Regions from separate parts of the Homo sapiens genome. Here region 2 is linked to region 1. Evidence: fine-mapped expression QTL. A gene starts in region 1. The other region holds a variant in brackets. All regions are shown on one strand. Distances are between the middles of the regions.

Evidence for each region. PIP is the estimated chance that this variant, and not a neighbour inherited with it, causes the effect.
Region 2: its variant is the best candidate, but not a certain one, in a credible set for the expression of MVK in whole blood (INTERVAL, PIP 0.78).

Annotation. Positions count from the first base shown.
Region 1 is chr12:109,569,031-109,578,932 of GRCh38, reverse strand. MVK (mevalonate kinase) reads right to left here and starts at 5,139. Exons shown (of 11, transcript NM_000431.4): 1 at 5,060-5,139; 2 at 4,033-4,124; 3 at 2,788-2,935. The coding sequence starts at 4,110. It overlaps MMAB (metabolism of cobalamin associated B), which reads left to right and starts at 5,429. Exons shown (of 9, transcript NM_052845.4): 1 at 5,429-5,586; 2 at 7,223-7,284. The coding sequence starts at 5,453. RefSeq lists silencers at 4,899-5,128, 5,149-5,278 and enhancers at 5,038-5,537, 5,538-6,039.
Region 2 is chr12:109,504,159-109,514,256 of GRCh38, reverse strand. It overlaps UBE3B (ubiquitin protein ligase E3B), which reads right to left. Exons shown (of 28, transcript NM_130466.4): 15 at 6,522-6,693; 16 at 4,543-4,661; 17 at 3,799-3,913; 18 at 2,954-3,053. Among named protein-coding and RNA genes, the nearest start is that of UBE3B, 32 kb to the right of the region's middle. The variant G/A (reference allele first, on the strand shown) is at 3,849.

The DNA of each region.
Region 1 (9,902 bases):
GGGAAGGTGAGGCAGGTTGTTCCCAGGGATGTACAGGAACCTGGGCCACTTTCCTCTGAGACACTGAGAAGGCAGAGCCTTTCTGGCCAGCTCACCTTTACAAATCACTCGCTGAGCCTCAGGTCACATTCTCAAGGGACTGGGAAATGGAATTGGGCATGCGTGTGTTAGGAAACTTCGGGCACTGGTTAAGTACTGGGTAAATGTGTGTTGAATGGATTAATGATATACTCAAATGGCCAAGTCATGGCATCATTGAGAACCCAGGTATTTCAGAGCTTTGTAATCGAGATGGAACAGCTGTTAAGAGCCTGGACTTTGGGGCTAGGAGAAACCTGGGTCTGAATCCTTTCAGTGTCACCAACAAGTGTAACCTGAGCCACTTGACCTCTGAACTTTAATTTTCAGATCTGTACAATGGGGATGAATACCACCACCTACTTCCAGGGAATGCTGGCGAATTCTAAGAGTGCTAACATATGTGAACACACTTAGTGCCTGGCACACGTAAGTGCCCAATAAGTGTTCACTGTAGTAGCACGGTGCAGTGGTATGTGCTTATATTCCCAGCTACTCGGGAGGCTAAGGCAGAAGAACACTTGAGCCCAGGAATTTGGGACCAGCCTGGGCAACATAGTAAGACCCTGCCTCTTAAAAAAAAAAAAAAAGTTCAATGTTTATTACTATCAGGAGGGAGCAAAAGGACACTGAAAGAAAGATGGTAGATCTTTGCAACCTAGAAGATAGTATGTCTCCCAGAGCTCCAAAACTAACAAGCCCTTCCCTACATAATGCACTCTGTGTCGCACCCCTAATGCCTGCCTCCAGTGTCGTCGGATCCTCATGGCAGCCCTCAGTCAGGAAACATGTCTCTGCTCCGAGGCCCAGAGGATGAAGTGACCTGCCCCAGGTTCACTGAGGGAGTTGGAGTGGTCTGAGACATGTTCCCCCATACCTGGCTGCTTCCACCCCAAGCTACTGACATACACAAGTTGCAGCTGGTTCTCAGGAGACATTTCTGGTCTGGCTGGGTGGCCCTGTGCACCTTGGAAAGCAAGTTCCATGTGCTCTGGCTGGTTGTTTTCAGATGCACGCTCCAAAGGAGTGGCTTTTAACTGAGGTGTCCCCAGAATCACCCAAGGAACCCCTTTCAAAAACTCCTACCACCACTACCAACTCCCAATAAGAGAGGGGCGGAGCCAGGAGCCCATCCATCTGTATTGGTTAAAAAAAACCACCACCACCATCACAAAAAACTCCTGGGTGATTCCAAGATATGATGAAGTTAAAAAGGGCTGCTCTAAAATGAGGATTTTGGCTGGGCACAGTGGCTCTCACCTGTAACCCCAGCACTTTGGGAGCCCAAGGTGGGAAAGTGGAAAACTGCTTGAGCCCAGGAGTTCCAGACCAGCCTGGGCAACACAGTGAGACCCCATCTCAACAAGTGAAATGAGAATTTTCAACTCTTCCTCCATCCCCATACGGCATATGGGAGTGACTGTGGTTTCTCATGGGGAATGGGAAGCAGGTGTCAAGGGTTCAGGTGCAGTGTAAGGAAAAAACCCAAAAAGATTCTCATTTACCCCATCCTGGCTGAGAAACACTGTTCCAAAGAGCAAGGCTTCATTCAGCCCAGGGAGCAGACAGTAAACTGACAACAGAGAAAACACACGTCAGCTCTGGGGCAGGTACAGGGGACTCCACTGATGGAAAAAGCTGGCCTGCTTATGAGTGGATGAAATCTTCACAGTGCTGTCAAAAATCAGCACACACACGTGACACACAAAGAAAAAATCAGTACTTCTGAATGGTTTATATGGCCTGACCCAATTTTGGTTAAAAAACCAAGATATCTCCCTGTCTCTATCAATCTTTCTATCAATCTACAGAAAATCACCCAGAAGGATTAATGCCTAAATGCTTAGAGTCATTACTGGGGTCAGGGAAAGGAGAAGGGAAATAATAGGTGATTTTTAAAATTACAATGTCCCAGTATTGACTATATTTTCCAATAATAAGCATAGGTAACTTGTACTTTTATTAAATTTTTTTTTTTTTTTTTGAGATGGAGTCTTGCCCTGTCCCCCAGGCTGGAGTGCAATGGCGCAATCTTGGCTCACTGCAACCTCTGCCTCCCAGGTTCAAGCGATTCTCCTACCTCAGCCTCCTGAGTAGCTGAGATTACAGGTGTGTGCCACCACACCCAGCTAATTTTTGTATTTTTAGTAGAGACATGGTTTCGACATGTTGGCCAGGCTGGTCTCGAACTCCTGACCTCAGATGATCCGCCCGCCTTGGCCTCCCAAAGTGCTGGAATTACAGGCATGAGCCACTGTGCCTGGCCTACTTTTATCAATTTTTAATTATACAAAATGCCAATATATTCTCCTTATTTAAAACATGTGTCACTTTGTCTACTCTCTGGCCCTAGGTCTCTCCCAGGAGAACTAATCACCACTGCCAATCTGATGTCTATGCCCCCGAGACCTTTTCTATCATTTATACACATATTTATACTTAAATACGTATGTTTGCTGTTTTGCATTTTTTTCACTCAACAATAGGCCTTGATGATCTGTCCACAACAGCCCACAGAGATCCAATGCATTGTTTTACACCTATAAATTTTAAAAAAATAAAATGAGTGAAGCTAATTTTATGAGGTCAGGGTAGAAAACACCCGGGAAATAGCTGGCCCCTGGCTCCCTTGGGGACAGCCCAGAATACCTGGCCAGCTGCCCTCTCTGTAGGCTCTTAGCACACCTGGTTTCTCCTCCTTGCACTCACCCAGAAAGCTTGTGTCCAGTGACTGAAGCCTGGCCACATCCCAGGCCCGCTTGATACCAATGTTGGGTAAGCTGAGGTCCACTTTCCCATTGCTGTGGGGTTGAAGCCGGAGGAATGTTCTCAAGTTCAAGGATACAGCCAGTGCTACCTATAGAATAAATGACAAAAGCAATAAGCCTGAGGGTGAGTGGCAAAGGGGCCAGGACCCACGTGCTAAGAAGAGAGCAAACATAAGCACAGAGGCCACTCCTAGCCATGCCCTTGCCAGACACTGCTAATCAACCTTGGCATGCTCTCCCACTAAGCCTGGGAACAGCCACCATCGATCAGCTAAAAGTTAAAATCCACTTTGCCTTCTGCCTGCAAAATTTCAGAGGTTCTCAATACCAAGGAATCACTTCCCCATAATCACCATGTTTTCAATGAGAAATATAAGAACATAAAGAATAGCAGTGAGAAGCCAGGTGTGGTGGCTCATATCTGTAATCCCAGCACTTTGGGAGGCCAAGGCAAGAGGATCACTTGAGCCCAGGAGTTTGAGACCAGCGTAGTGTCAGACCACGTCTCTACAGAAAAATAAAAGAAAAAAATTAGTGGGGCATGGTGGTACACACCTGTGGTCCCAGCTACTTGGGAGGCTGAGGTTGGAGGCTGCAGTGAGCCATGATCGCAAGATTGCACTCCGGTGACAGAGCAAGACTGTCTCAGGAAAAAAAAAAAAAAGCAGAGTGCAGCAGAGGTGGTTTCAGACAGACTTAGGTTCACACCAAGCTCTACCAAGGTATATAGGACTTGGATCAAGTTACCACTTCTCTCCTAAGCCTCAGTTTGCACATTTGTAAAATAGGATAATAAAAGGGTATGCCTTGGGGGTAGCTGTAAGGGTAAAATGAGATAATGGATGTTTTCAACTCCTTTGCTAGATCATCCTTCCAACTTCTAAATGTCTTAGTGCCCCGGAGCTCAGTTCTCAAACCTCTTTCCTTCTGCATCAAAGCTCACTCCTAGGTGATCTCATTCCACTCACAGGGCTTTATATTATAATCATCTTTTTGCTATCATACCGAGCGAGGCCCAAGAATCCCTTCAGTGGGCATAAGAAATCTTTTCCTTGCCTGGCTGGGGAGAACCTGATCTCTCTGATCTGCTCCCAAGCTGTGCCTCAGGGTGTCCTTTTACCTTCTTACAAAATTAGCATCAGGGAGAAGGGGTACCCAATCCTTAAAGGCTCTAACGGCTTTGTACCTTGCCATGTACCACGGCATGTTCTCCATGAAGGATGACTTTCCCCGGAGCAGACACCAGTAGGACTTCTGACAACATGGCTCCTGGGAATCCTAAAAGGGAAAGCCAATGAGAAGAGCAAAGATCTCTAGATGTCAGAACCAGCAGGAAGAGATCTTAGAACACCTAGTTCAAGCCCATCATAATAACAAAAAAGGTAGTTACCGTCCAGCACTTGCTACGTACCAGAAAGGCAATGCAGGAGTCAACTGGACACATCCAACAGATCTGGGTTCAAATGCCAGCTCTTCCACTCCCCAGTGATGTCATCTTAGTTAACTCACTTAAATGGCTAAGAACCTCGGTTTCCCCACACGTTATATGGAGAGAAAATAACCGTACCTACCTCGGTGGATGTTAGGAAGGTTAAATTAACGCAAGGGAAACACTTGGCGGTGTCTGGCACCTACTAATCATTCAATTACTGAGAGCTACTTATTACTGGCTCTGTTCTTCGTTTCAGCTTTTACAACTACTACTATTAAAGGTAGAAATTACATGAAATCATGGAGCAGAAAGAACTCTTTGCTGGACATTTAGGCTGTTTCCAATGTGTCACAATTATAAACAAGGCTGCAGAAAACACCCAGTACGCCTCGTTTTGCACACTTAAATGAGTATTTCTGCAGGACAGAGTCCTAGAAAGGAGCTTGCAGGGTCTATAGGTGTGTGCAATTTACACTTTTATACATAACGCAAAATTATCCTCCGCTTAAGGCTTTACGTAGATTACCTTACGCTAAGATTCAGGTGTACTATGAGCTAAGTACTATCGTGATCCCCATTTCTTAGAAAAACTGAGGCTCAGAGCGGGGAATCCCCTTGCTTGTCAAGCTCAAAATCACGACTGTCAGATTGAGGTCGCCGATCCCTCGGGGCAAGACTCTCAGAGCTGGGTAAACTGAGCCACAGAAGCTGGACGCCTGGCTCAGCGTCGTCCTGGGTCTAGGACCTCGCGCCGCCCGGCCGCCCGACCCCGGCCTCTCACCTGCCGCCGCCGCCGCCTCCCCGGCCGCCGCCCCTCCGCGCCGAAGCCGGAGCAGCTCCCCAACTCCCACAACCCAGAGCGCCCGTGCCTCAAGGGGAGGAGGCGTTGTACTTCAGGCCAGCCAATCAGAGCGCGCGAGCCCGGAGTACCTTTACCAATAGGCTTGAACATTGGTCAATAGGTGTTGCAGCCAAGCCGACACGGGTTTTCCCGCCCCGCTCCTTCCGTTAAACCAATGGGAAACAAGTCCCTGGGAGTGTCCCGCCCTGGGGTGAGAACTGCGAACCAATAAAAATTGAAACCTGAGCGGTGGCGCGGCCAGCTGTGGGTGGAGTCACCCCGCGGACTGGACGGGAACCTGGCGGGGTCAGGTCCCGTCAAGCAGCCTGGCTCATGGCTGTGTGCGGCCTGGGGAGCCGTCTTGGCCTGGGGAGCCGTCTTGGCCTGCGCGGGTGCTTCGGCGCCGCCAGGCTCCTGTATCCCCGTTTCCAGAGCCGCGGCCCTCAGGGCGTGGAAGACGGGGACAGGTGAGTGGCTGGCGGGAAGGGCAACTCGAACACCTGCCGTGAATCGTGGTGTCGTCGCCATGGGTACGTCACACCGCCGTGAGGTCACCGCGGCAACCGTCAGGTGACGTCTCCACGCTGTTCTGACGTCACCATGGCAACGTGGGCCACGTGGGCGCCAGAGACCAGGTAGTCTTTGCCTAAGTCCCAATGAAGTCCCGCTATCATCGGGCAGGGCAGGGCATATCCCATGTGGGCCAGGAGGGCTCTCGACTCAGATTGTGACCAATCTCCAAAGCAGTTTATTCCCCAGGTCCCAGATACACCAGCACCTTCTAAAGATGGCTTTCCTCATATTCCTTGAAACTTGCACCTCAACCCAGACCTCAGAACCTCTAGAGTACCGTGGATTAATAATGGATTAATTTAGTTCACAGATCCAGGAAATTAACCTTCGAATGGGCTTGTAATGTCACATTTTAATTTTGAGCTATGTCCTTGAGTTGTTTACATTGTTTTTTGAAAATGCCACTTTTTGAGCTGTATTTTGGCAATTCTTCATCTCTGAGTACACTCGAAGCCTCATACTATGGAAGTGGCTCAGGTTTCTTTTCCTGCAAGAGGCCCTGAGTTGGTGGAGTATAAGATAAAAATTTGGGTAGGATAGAGTTAAGAGTCCTAGCTACTTGGGAGGCTGAGGCAGAGGATCACTTGAGCTCAGGAGTTCAAGGCTGCAGTGAGCTATGATCATGCCACTGCACTGCATTCCAGCTTAGGCAACAGAGCAAGACCCTGTCTGTGAACAAAATAATCATAGGCCAGATACGGTGGCTCACGCCTGTAATCACAACACTTTGGGAGTTTGAGGCAGGAGTATTGCTTGAGCTCAGGAGTTCAAAACCAGCCTGAGCAACATGGTGAAACCCGTCTCTACCAAAAAAAAAAAAAAAAAAAAATTAGCTGGGTGTGGTGGTATACACCCGTGCTCCCAGCTGCTCGGGAGGCTGAGGTGGGAGGATTGTTTGAGCCTGGGAGGCAGAGGTTGCAGTGAGCCTAGATCGTGCAACTGCATTTCAGCCTGGGTGACAGAGTGAGACCCCATCTCAAAATAATAATAATAATAATAAATAAATAAATAATTTCGGTAGGATAGAAGTTACAGTTTGTGCTCTGGTCTAGGACAGTTTTGGGCATCCCACTCCTGCCTCTTCTTGGATGGTCTAGGAAGGTGTCTCATCTGAGCCATAGTTTCCTCCTCAGTAAAATGAAGAGAATAGGTGTTGGCTACCTTTGGGGTTGTGGAAAGATTCCAGGATAATTCCAGAAGATAATGCCTGTAAACTACTTGGCACAGTGCAGGGACAATGGCAAAGGATCAATCAAGTCCTTCAGCAAATATTTATTGAGCATCTTTGTTGAGCAAGGCATTACATCAGCTACTCTACACACTCTGTCATCCAGCTCTGGTCTTGCCCACAAAATGTTTGCTATTAGAAAGGATCTAGGGGAAAGAAATCAACAAGAGATGACCATCTAAGCAGTAAGGGGTAAGTGCTGCCTCTGAGGTTACAAGCAGCAAGCTGGGACCCTCTGAAGGAGCTGACCCTCTGTGTAAGCCATCCCCACTCACCAGATACTGATGTTTATTTCTCATTAGGCCACAGCCTTCCTCGAAGACACCCAGGATCCCCAAGATTTACACCAAAACGGGAGACAAAGGTAGGGTGGGGACAGGTGAAAAATGCAAAGAAATACTCATGGCATACACCATTTTAAAGTTCTTCCAAATTCTTTGCAGCCACTTTAAAGTATAATATACCAGGCGCGGTGGCTCATGCCTGTAATCCCGGCACTTTGGGAGGCCCTGTTGGGCTAATCATCTGAGGCCAGGAATTTGAGACTAGCCTGGCCAATGTGGTGAAACCCCATCTCTACTAAAAATACAAAAATTAGCTGAGTATGGTGGTCCATGCCTGTAACCCCAGCAGCTACTTGGGAGGCTGAGGCAGGAGAATTGCTTGAACTCGGGAGGCAGAGGTTGCAGTGAGCCAAGATCATGCCACTGCACTCCAGCCTGGGTGACAGAGCAAGACTCCATCTCAGAAAAAAAAAAAGTCTCAGAAAAAAAAAGTATGATATTTGACAGATCTCAAAATATGTTACAAAAATGTAATGTGAAATGAAAAACACCCAAGAGATATTAAATGACAAAAGCCTGAATCTGTCTGGATAAGCATGTACATATATGTGTGTTCAGGTGTGTGTAGAATAGTCTGAAAGGTTACACCTGGGACTGTTCTGGGAGAGAGATTAAGTTGTGAGAGGGGAACAAACAGAAGGACTTTCACTATTTACATACTTTTATTCTATTTTATTATTTTTTATAATGAGTATATATTACTTTAATAGTTTTTAAAATGCTAGAACATGTTATATAGAAAAAAGTAAGATGCAGAAGAATGCGTTGCTATGATCCTTTTTTTTTTTTTTTTTTGATACAGGGTTTTACTCTGTCACCCAGGCTGGAGTGCAGTGGCTCAGTCATGGCTCACAACAGCCTCCACCTTTCAGACTCAAGCAATCCTCCCACCTCAGCCTTCTGAGTATCTGGGACAACAGGCACACATCGCCATGCCTGGCTAATACTTTTTAATTTTTTTTGTAGAGATGAGGTCTTGCTGTGTTGCCCAGGCTGGTCTTGAACTGCTAGGCTCAAGGTATCCTCCCAGCTCAGCCTCCCAAAATGCTGGGATTACAGGAGGCATGAGCTACCGCACCAAGACAGTATACCATTTTTTGTAGTACAAAAGCATGCAGACCACTAGTATGTATTGTTTTTTGGATATATACTTGTATAGTAAAAGTATAAAAGCATGTACGGGACATACTCAGTGCCACTGAATGGTAAACTTAAGAAGGGTCAAAATGGTAAAATTTCTGTTATGTATCATCTGTTACCACAATTAAAAAGAAGGAAGAGGATGTTGGAAAGGACTTATTGTAGGGTTGGGCTTGTGTTGGGTGGTTACAAGGAAGTGGGGCTTTGTTCTGGATTGAATCCTGTTAGGAAGCAGGGCTGTTTCTGTCACTGGGTATCTTTTTTTGTTTTTTGAGACAGGGTCTAGTTCTGTTGCCCAGGCTGGAGTGCAGTGGCACGATCTCAGCTCACTGCAACCTCCTGGGTTCAAGCAATTCTTATGCCTCAGCCTCGCGAATAGCTGGGACTACAGGCATGCATCACCATGCCCAACTAATTTTTTCTGTTTTTAGTAGAGACGGGGATTTGCCATGTTGGCCAGGCTAGTCTCGAACTCCTGGCCTCAAGTGATCTGCCCACCATGGCCTCCCAAAGTCCTGGGATTACAGTGTGAGCCACTGCACCTGGCCTGTAATTGGGTATGTTAATAATTTGTTTCTAGAAGACAGAAGGGACAAAGAGGTGCTAACGCTGTAATGGATAAAGATGCAGCAGTCACTCACATTAGCCAGGGAAGGGGGAGGTTTGGTCATCTTTTGGAGTTTGGACACAGTCGTCTGTGCTCAGACGTTCTTCCGCAGTGGCCTTGTCTTGGTCTCGAACCGTCATAGTCATAGAGTGGCCTGTCTGATGGTTTTCTGTGAAATGGTTTGTGTTCAGCAGAACACCACAGTCTACCTGTGAGTGCCAGGCCGGCACCTGGCAACCCCAAAGCCTGCCCGATAGCGAAAGCCAGCTCCAAACTGTCAGGGGCAGTTTTCACTTTCTCAGAGGTTGGGGGAGAAAGGCGGGACTGTGAGCTAGGCAGAGGCACAGAGGACTTTGACTTCATGTGAAATATAATGGTAATGTATATATGATATAAAATATAGAACGTGTTGTATTTCTTTATCAGGATGGTTAGTATGTGGTTTTTAAGTTGAAAAGCACATCAGGAAAGAAGTGAGCATAGTGGCTAACCCTTGGGGAGTGGCAACTAAAAGGGGTTACATGGGGGCTTTCAGGGTGTTGCTCATGTTCTGTTTATGAAGCTAGGTGCTGATCAAGGAGGTATATTCAGTTAGTAGTAATTCACCAACTTGCACACTTACGATTTGAGCACTTTTCTGTGTATATGCTATATTTCAAGTTGAAAGTTCTTTAAGGGGTGGTACGGTGGCTCATGCCTGTAATCTCAGCACTTTGGGAGGCTGAGGCGGGTGAATCACTTGAGACCAGGAGTTCAAGACTAGCTCGGCCAACATGGGCGAAAACCCGTCTCTACTAAAAATACAAAAATTAGCCGGGCATGGTGGTACACACTTGTAATCCCAGCTACTTGGGAGACTGAGGCATGAGAATCACTTGAACCTGGGAGGGG
Region 2 (10,098 bases), 65 kb after region 1:
CCCATACTACAAAGCCTCTGCCCACTCCACACCTCTTAGGCCTTCTGGGTAAACACAAAAGGCAGAGAGGACTTAAGGGCCAGCCAGGGGATGAGTCACACATAAACAGGTAAAAGCGATGTAAGAGGGTGCAGAAAATGAAGTGCTGTGCACGTGAGCCAGGCAGAGCTGAGGCTTTAACAAATGTTAAGGAAAACAAGAAAGGCATTATAGTGAAATCGAGAACAAGGGAGAGGTTCAACATTTAGGGCAGATGGTATAATGGTAACAGAGCAGAGAGAGCCTATTACCCTCCTGTGTACTCCAGCAAGAATATTTCAATGGCAGAGGGCAGCACACATGCCACTAAGGGGAGCTTGAAGCTTGAGATGGGCGGAGGGGCAACAAGACAGCCCATCTGCTCTGAAAACACCAAGCCTTAGATACTCCCCCAGGACCTGCAATCACGGAGCAGGAAGGGGCAGGAGATGACGAGGGCCCCATTTTCCTGAGGGAGGACATTTTATGAACTAAGGACAAACAACCTTGATGACATATTTAAGCAAAATTCCCAAAAGAAAAAAAAAATGTGGGGATTACTATATACCCTGGACTTAAAAGTCATTCCAATTTATCTCAGCGGTTCCCTGACTTTCTTATTCACAGCACCTCTATCACTGCAGTAACTTTTTTCATGGTACTCCTAGGCCAAAAGAAATCCCTAGCAGTCCTTTTTACTAGGTAGTTAGGTCCCAAATATTTATGTCCTAAGACCTCAGTTGCTGTATTTTACAAATGCACATACTTTGAAATATAAAATATTTTTATTTTGTTCTTACAAGCCAGCTTTGCAAACATCATTAAAAAGAATGTAGTGCAATCTCATGTTGAAACCACGAACTACTCTGAACTAGCAGTTCATGTGGTGTCTCACTGTGTTCTCCTCAGAAATTTAAAATATTGTGCAGCACCTCCAGTGGCCACAGCACACGTGAACCACAGAGAAACAGAGCGGAGGGTCTAGACGATGTGTTATGGGAATGCAATGGTCAGAGGCTGATTTCACAGACACGCGGGTCCAGGAGGAGGGGCTGCATTTTAAACCAGACACCACCAAACCAGATGAGGCCCAGGAGATGAAGGCTGGAGCCTATTTCAAACAAAGACGAGGTGGAGAGGCTAAGGATACTACACTTGGAAAACACAAGCCCCACATGCAAACGGGAGCTGCCAACAGATCACAGAAGATAAAAGAAGCCACTTTTAGGGGTTGTTCAAGGACCAAAGGGTAGAAGTTACAGAGAAGCACAGTTCATGATGAGGAAGAATGTTCTATCTTTTGGAAAAGTAAAGCCACAGAACAGCCTGTTTTGCAAAGCTGTGCATTTTCTATTGGAAGCAAGGTCAGGGACATCATAGCAGGGGCTCCCTCAAGGAAGGCACATTTGATTAAGTAATTGCCGTAAGGCCCTTCACTTCTGAGAGTTTGCCAAGTGCAGTAAGAATTTAAACAGCCACATTGTTTGCACATCACTGCTTGAGGGGGAAAGAATAGCAACCATAAGTATTAAAGTCAAGGACAGAACAGTATCAGACAGCAGTGAGGATGAAATACCTCTGAAAAATGAGATTTAATTTACAAAAATATGATTTATGCTCTTTTCTAAAAATATGTCTACTTCGTTAAAAAAAGAAAAAGAAAATAGAACAGGAGAAAAATAAAGGACACAACCTAGACTCCTAGAAGACTCTTCTAAGAGGAGCTGAGTGTTGTCGCAGCATCGGACATTTCCAGAGTGCCTGCCACTCACCAGGGACGTGAGCCATGCTTGCTACCCTCATTTCCTGGATGCTCCTGCCACAGCCCAATCCTCCCCAAGTCTCTCTCATCCCCCGGGTGTGTGGCACTCTCCTGGTTTCCCTCCTTCCCTCCTCGTGTTGGCCCTCTGTGGGACGGGTCCTGCAGGGCTCTGCCTCAGTGCCCTGGACTTCTCACTCCGTCTGACTCCCCAACCACCTCGCCCAGGTTATGGGGGGAGTCAGCAGACTTGGGTGCTGTCTGATTCCCTGACTACCTCACCCAGTCCATGGGGGCAGTCAGGAGATTTGGGTGCTCTCCCCACACAAGCTCCTCCCTCCTGAATGCCAGACCCCCTTTCCAATGGCTTCCAGGAGCCAGAGACATCTCACATCCTACCTGCTCGATGCTGAACTCGCCGCCATGTCCCAGTCCTGCTCTTCCACCTCAGGAAAACACCCCCCAAGTACCCAAGCCAGACACCCGAGCATCACCTGAATTCTTCCTTTCTTTCCCCTTGGGATGTGACCATTCTCTGAGGCCTCCTTAAAAATCTCTTGACTTGCTCATCTTTTGACTCCCAGGGCCCACCCTAGTGCAGGACAGCTTGCTTTAACACCCCTGCCTCTAGCCAGCCCTCCACGCTGCAGCCAAGATGACCTTCCTGAAGTATGGCTCTGACCAGGTGCCTCCTAAGCTTCCAGCCCTCCGGTGGCTTTGCAGAAAGCCCTTGCTCCCAGCCTTGGTTTCTAAGGCTGTCTTGCTCTAGTTCCTACTACCCTCCTCGGCTTCCTCTTGACCCCATCCTTTCTATTCTCTCCAGCCACACTGCACATTTGACTCTCCAAAAGCACCTCATCCTTTCTAACTCAGCCTTTCAACACTGTCCACTTTTGCCCGTGGGACCCTTTCCTGTCCCCTTTCCCTCCCTCCAGCTGGTCAGGTCTCCGTACCTGGGCTGCCACTCCACCAGCATCGCCAGTTCACACTGTCTTCTCCAGCTCTGTACCCCAGCACTGGGTGTAACCTCACCAAAGTAATAGCAACCACCGTTTCCTTGTGCTGAATGAATGATCCCACTTAGTCACCTCCAATTGCCATAGCAAGGATGGAAAGGCAGGAACCACGTGGGGGAATAGAAAGACACATCGGGGCCCAGCTCTGAGTGCAACTCACGTTTTTGTGAGGGATGACATGTGGGATGTACTGCAGGATCAACTGTGCCCGTTTTCTGTCCCTGTCGAGTTCTTGGAAGAGCACGCTAGGTTTGAGATCCCTTGAGAAGAAAGACATGGGTTTGGGAGAATTAAAAGAAGGAAACCATCCTCTAGTGTGAGGCTGGGAAATGACACCATGTGGGCCACATGCAGGGTGCTGTCTGTTTCTCAAGAGTCTGATGGGAACATGACCATACTCATTCATACATGTATAGCCTATGGCAGCTTTTGTGCTACAAGAGCAGAGTTGAGTAGCTACAACAGAGACTGTCTGGTCCACAAAGCCTAAAGTCATCTGGCCCTTTACAGAAGTTTGCCAGTCCCTGCTCTAGTGCCACAGCTTCAGCAGTTGCCATAAAGCTTGAACTCATTGATAAAAATGCAGATACATGCCTATGTTCAGTTGTGATAGGAGGATTTCCCCCACCCCATTACTCTCCAAAAAACCTAAAAGCAGTTTTTACTCTAGTAATTCTGCTAATAAAAACTGCCTTTTAACTCTCATGCTCTGTTGCTCAGCTCAGCTAAAAGACCTCTTCCTAGTTTGGATGAGAAATGTATGCTAAATATAATCTGGCTCTGTTGCCATTAATTAACTCTAATCATATTTGGTGTAAACATCTCTTAACAGAAGCGTCCTGACAGGTGCTTCACAGGGACAGCAGCTCTCTTTACACAAATGAACAGACAAAATGAAGCAGAGGGAAAAAGTCCTCTCTGCCCTAGAACATGAGAGCTGAGTGCTCGGGCAGCGTGCCGGAGCAGGCTGGCTTCCATGGAGCCCTCCTCACCCCTGGAGCTCACTTTCGCAGCCAGTGGTCCTCGGGGGTGAAGCGCCGCCGGCAGTCCCGCTC[G/A]TACAGCACCATAAGCCACCCGTGGACAGACTGGAACAGCTCCAAGGTCTCACCCTTGGCGTTCTCTGTGGGACAAACAAACAGGAAAGTCAGAGGAGGAGTCAGAGCCAGAGAGCAAGGGGAGGACAGCTCTTGTCTTCCGCAGTTGTCATCAAGTCCTTGATCTCCCTCGCTCTGAATTATATGTGGAACCGACAGAATTAAAAGGCACCCTGGGTAAGTGCTAAGTGTCTGCAGGGCCTGAGTACCTCTCAGACAAAATCACTCATGCTGCCTCCCACTAGTGTGTCATCCGAAGGGCCTTTTAAGTCTAAGGAGCTTTGTCCTGAGCAATTGGAGACACTTCGGGAGGTGGACTCTCATCTCAAGTGTGCACTGGCACATGTTTTATCTTCACGGAAATCAAATGGAAGAATCAACAGGAGATTCAGGGCAAAATTAATCATCATTAATAATCCTCGACACATACATGCAAATCCTGAAGGGAGCCTGGGAGAGCAAGACTTCTATAACCACACCACTATCTTAAGAAGTCACAGAGAGTGAAGAAAGAAAATTTCCAATTGTGGGAATAAATGTGCACCTTCTATTAACTTGGAGAGACAATAAAGCTAAGAATCAGTTGATGCCATAGACTCTTCGGCCTCCCTGGGTGCAGCATCAACCAAACAACAGCAGACACCTTTTCTCTTACCTACAATTCCATCCCAGATCATCTTAAACACAAAAGAATTCAGGAAAGAGGAGATAGTGACCAGCTCTTCCAGTTTGAATGAAATCTGTTCTTCATAAACTTCAATGTCATCAAGGATTCTAAATCAGAGAGAAAATTACCCACAATTCCACACTGAAAAAAGGCGAAGAGAAAAAAAATCTGTACTGCTTACTAGACAATAAACGAGGTTGAGAAATAAGCTTTATCTTGTAGAGATACTTACTGTAAAATCTACAGATAAAATGATATGATATCATCAGGGGTAGGGGGAAAGGGGAGGGAGAGCCTTAGGACAAATACCTAATGCATGTAGAGCTTAAAACCTAGATGACGGGGTGACAGGTGCAGCAAACCACCACAGCACATGTATACCTATGTAACAAACCTGCACTTTCAGCACATGTATCCTAGAACTTAAAGTAAAATAAAATAAAAATAAAATGAAAAAAATGATATGATGTCTAGGATTTGCTTCAAAATAATGTGGGAGAGAAAAGCAGGTGGGCATTTGGATGAAGCAAAACTGGCTGTGAGGTGGTACTGTTGAAGCTGATAATGGGCACATGAGGGTTCATTATATTATCCTTTCTACTTTCTATTAATTTGAAATCGACCATAGTAAAAAGTTAAAAAATACAATTAAGAAAAAATCTGTACTCTATATTTTTCTTATTCATAAGGATCTGACTGTGACACTTTCTTAATTCACACCTCAATTCACGCCTTCCTTATTCATGTCTGCATATCAAGGAACATTGACTGAGAGTCGATGTTTACTGAGGAAAGCTGCAGAATCTTTTCGATATCTAAGACACATACTAGTGACACTTAGCAGGTACTTAGTAAGCATTTGTGAGTAAATGAATAAATGTTTGAAAGAACATATGAATAAATGAGCCATTTAAGACACAGCTCTATCTGAACATTTCCTAACACTGCTCCATACACTAGAATAAGATTCACTCTTGGCTTACCCCCATCCAGTGATTAAGGATGTCTTCACCAGCAGCTAGACCCCTGCTCTTGCCTCCAACTGCTCAGTGAGTTCTTCCATGATCCTCACCCAATCTGCCACCTACATGTCCCTGATCCTCTCCGGCTAAAGTCTTCCAGCCTGAACATAACTGCCTGAGGTCCATTGTATCTTATAATTCTTCACCAACCTTTTGGGAAAAGGTGGAATGAAAAGAATACCAAACACACAAGATGCATAAGCTTAAAAACCAAAGGAACTAAATGGGACTAATGTTTGTTAATTTCCCACTCTGTGCCAGGCACTGCACTAAGTATTTGACGCTGTTTTTTTCACTTACCCTCTATTGAACTGGTAATATTCTCTTCATTCTAATGAGGAAATAGAGACTCAAAGAGGTTAAGAAACTTGCTCAGGGTCGGCTTGATAATAATAAGAGCCAACAAGTACTGAACTCATCCTATGTGCCAGGGACTGTGATAAGCACTTTGCAATAATTATGTCTTTTAATCCCTACCATGTGCCTAAAAGGTATGTGCTATTGTCATTCCCATTTACAGATGAGTCAACTGAGTCTCAGAGAGGTTGAATCCGTGATCCCTTGCCCAGGGTGTCTCAAGATCTGCTTAGCAAGGATCTGCACCCTGGCTCTGACTTTGGAATTTTCCAGGAATCTAGCTAGCACAGTGAATAAATGGCTGAGCCATGATCTAAACCCATCTCCAGGAGACCCCAAGCCACAGCCAGTGGTACTGATCAGCTTCCTTGAAAGGATGGGAACTTTTAACTCCCAGGCCCCACCCTAACAACTGCTGAACATTTACTGCACACTGCTCACTTGGTAAATGGCTAGTTCTTACAATGCCCTGCCACACAGGTCCAAATGTTTGCAGTAATCACATTAGCAATTACTTCCTTACTGACACTGTATTTTGGTCTCTCCATATTCTAGGAAAGGAATTCAGTCCCACAGCAGTCAACCTACGTGATGAGGTGCCGCGAACAGTCACAGAACAGCATCAGCATGGCCAAGAGTTGCTTGGACTCTTCAGTGTCATTGTTCAGGCATTCCAAGAAGAGCTTTAACCCTCCGTGGGGCCCGAGCTCACAGATAAATGCCCACAGTTTGGGAAGCAGGTCATCAAGGTAAGTGAGACCTGGAAAAAACACAGAGAAACCCAAGCTTCAGGTGGAGACTCCACCTGGTCTGTTATTTCTCCTATCCAGTGGGGAAACAAAACACTTAAACCTATCCATGAACATTTAATGTGCGTGAAAAGAAGGTGGGATTATGGAGAAAAGCATTATCACCACGAGAGTAACAATGATAAGAGCCAGTAGTCAGTGGGTGCTGACTATGTGCCAGGCACCATTCTAAGCACTCCGTATGTATTGTTTGCTTTCCATTTTCTGAAGCCCAGTGTTATCCCCATCTTATACAGGAGGAAACTGAAGCACAGAAAGGTTAAATAATTGGCCCCAAATCACACAGCCTGTATGTCAGAGCCAGGAATAGAACTCAGGTCTGACTTAGCATTTATGCTTTAAATCAGGGATCAGCAATTTGTTTCAGGAAACAGCCAAAGAGTAAATATTTTTAGGCACTGTGGGCCAGAAGGTCTCTGCTGTTAAATTAAATCTAGCCAAGTCTGAGCAAAAAACAATTCATCCATCAGGCAGCCCTCAGAACCAGACGAGGTTCAGACAGCTCCAGTCCACATTCTGGGCAGGCAACATTTAGGGGCAAAACTGAAGTGAGGTACAGAGACAGCTTGACTGGTTACACCTCGGCTTTGCCTTATTTGAATGTGGTCTAATCAGATGGCCACCTGTGATTGATTGAAGCTAGGCTGCTGTGATTGGCAGCTATTTGTTACAAAAATACTGAATAGTCCTAAGTTAGACTTCTAGTCAGTTTACATACTAAGTTAGGCTGCAGTTCCTTACTTAAGGACTCAAAATATGGAGGCATCCTCAGGCCAAATTTAGTCTAACACTGTTACAACTACTCAGTGCTACCACTACAGCACAAAAGCGGCCACAGACAATGTGTAAAGAAACAGATTTGGCAGCCCGGTGCTGTGGCTCACGCCTGTAATCCCAGCACTCTGGGAGGCTGAGGCGGGTGGATCATCTGAGGTCAGGAGTTTGAGACCAGCCTGGCCAACATGATGAGAAACACTGTCTCTACTAAAAAATACAAAATCAGCCGGGCGTGGTGGCCAGCACCTGTAATCCCAGCTGCTCAGGAGGCTGAGGCAGGAGAATCGCTTGAACCTGGGAGGCAGAGGTTGCAGTGAGCCGAGATCGCACCACTGCACTCTAGCCTGGGCGACAAGAGCGAAACTCTGTCTCCAAAAACAAAAACAAAAACAAAAACAAAACAGATTTGGGTCTGTTCTAGTAAAAATTTATTGACAAAAACAAGTAGTGGGCTGGATTTGGCCCCCCAACAGTAGTCTGCTGACCCTTGCCTTAAACCATCTTGCAGGCTCGCCACCTTTGGCAAAGCTTCCCCCCACTTACCTCTATTATTCTATTATGTTAAAAGTGGAAATGCAGTCAATGACTGTGGTAGGATGCTCTGAACTATACAAAAATGGAACCCTGAGGAAGCAAAAGGGGACACAGAGGACTTTCTAAATTTGTTTCCTGATGGCTACAAGGCCTTAGACACACAGGCCACATCACGGGTATAGTTTACATCTAATAACACATCTCTTGACTTAGAAAGGCTGGATCTGAAATGCCATGTGTCACTGAATATACATTAAGGTGTGTTCCTCAGAAAAGCACAGTCACCTTGTATACGAGCCCTTACAATACCTCTCATCTTATAGGGCACTCTCTGAATTATTTAGTTTTGAATAAAGAACTGTTTGGGGAAGGTATATTAGCCAGCAGTGGGAGTTGGGGGAACTCCATCAGAGCTACTGAAGGATACTTAGAGGGTGAACTGAAGGAATTCTAAAGGAGGCCAAGAATTGTATCAATTTAGTGATTATGCCTAGAGCTTAGACCTCACATTTTCAAGGGTAGGAGGATGTGGTTATAAAGAAGCCTTTAGAAGCAAGACTTTCTTGATCTGTTGGTGATGACATAGGTGCCCCACTCATAACTAGTCTTTCAACTGTCCATGTTATATCAAACACACCCAAGAATGTGGAACTCTCACAATTCAAAAATAGGTTAAAATAGAAACAGAGGAAACAGTTAACACTGTGGAGATCACAAATATACTCCTATGGGATAAAAGAAGAAAAGCAAGTGTCCTCGAGTTCTGTGTAAAGGACTCATGTAGCGTAGACTAGAATGCTCATAGCATCACACACTGATTCAACAAGGGCTGCATATCTAGCCATTTAGACAGAGATGGAGACACTGGGCCTGGCAGAGCAATGGCAGACAGACCAGCAGCAGTGCCAGTGCTATCAGATGTGTGTGAGGAGCACAAACAGACACTTCCTAAGTTGTCAGTAGAAAAACAGCAGTATTTTAAAAACAAGCGTTATTTTCTATAATCTAAGTTGCTAAATAGACTGAATATCAAACATACACTTTAGACTAGTTTATCTTTATCCTTAAAGTGTATATTTTCAAGTTGACTAAAAAACCTGTATTTGGATTCTCTCACTTGGGAAAATGAGCTTCAATGTGAGCTCATTTAAAAAGCTGGACACACAGGAGATCGAGACCATCCTGGCTAACACAGTGAAACCCCGTCTCAACTAAAAATACAAAAAAAAAATTAGCCGGGCATGGTGGCAGGCGCCTGTAATCCCAGCTACTCGGGAGGCTGAGGCAGGAGAATGGCGTGAACCTGGGAGGCGGAGCCTGCAGTTGAGCCGAGATTGCGCTACTGCACTACAGCCTGGGCGACAGAGTGAGACTCCGTCTCGAAAAAAAAAAAAAAAGCTGGACACAAACCACAACCCCAAACTCCTCTCACTCAAGATGCTGCTCAAACCCTCAGGCGCTGGGGTACCCCAGGTATGGTCTTGCCCCTTCTCTCCTCCCTCTGCTCATCTTTGGGAAACCTGCCCTAGGCTGAAAGCCCATGGCTTTACACTCCATCCCTCAGCTGATGCTCCCAGAGTGTCACCTCTGCCAGCATGCCCAGCAGGCCCCTTTCCCTTGTCACAGCCACAACACAACAGACTCCTCACAGGCCCTGCCCCCGGTCTTCTCCAGCTCAGCAAACAGTGCTACCATCCACACAGGTGGTTGGGCCAACAACCTGGTATCTTCTTTAAAACCCTCAGTCCTCATGCTCCCAAATCCAAGCTACCAGTAAGACCCATATCTTCTACCTCTAAAACAAATCTAAATCCTCCTGCCTTAATCTCCATTGCTACTAAACTAGGCCAGTGGCTTTCAACCAGGAATGATTTTGCCTCCCAGGGGGCATTTGGCTGAATGCCAAATTTGAAGATATGTTTGGCTGTCACGCTGGTTGGGAAGGTGCTACTGGCATCTATGAGTAGGGACCAGGGCTGCTAAACATCCCAAAACACACAAGACAGCCCCTCATGACAAAGAATGGGCCAGCCCAAGACATCCAT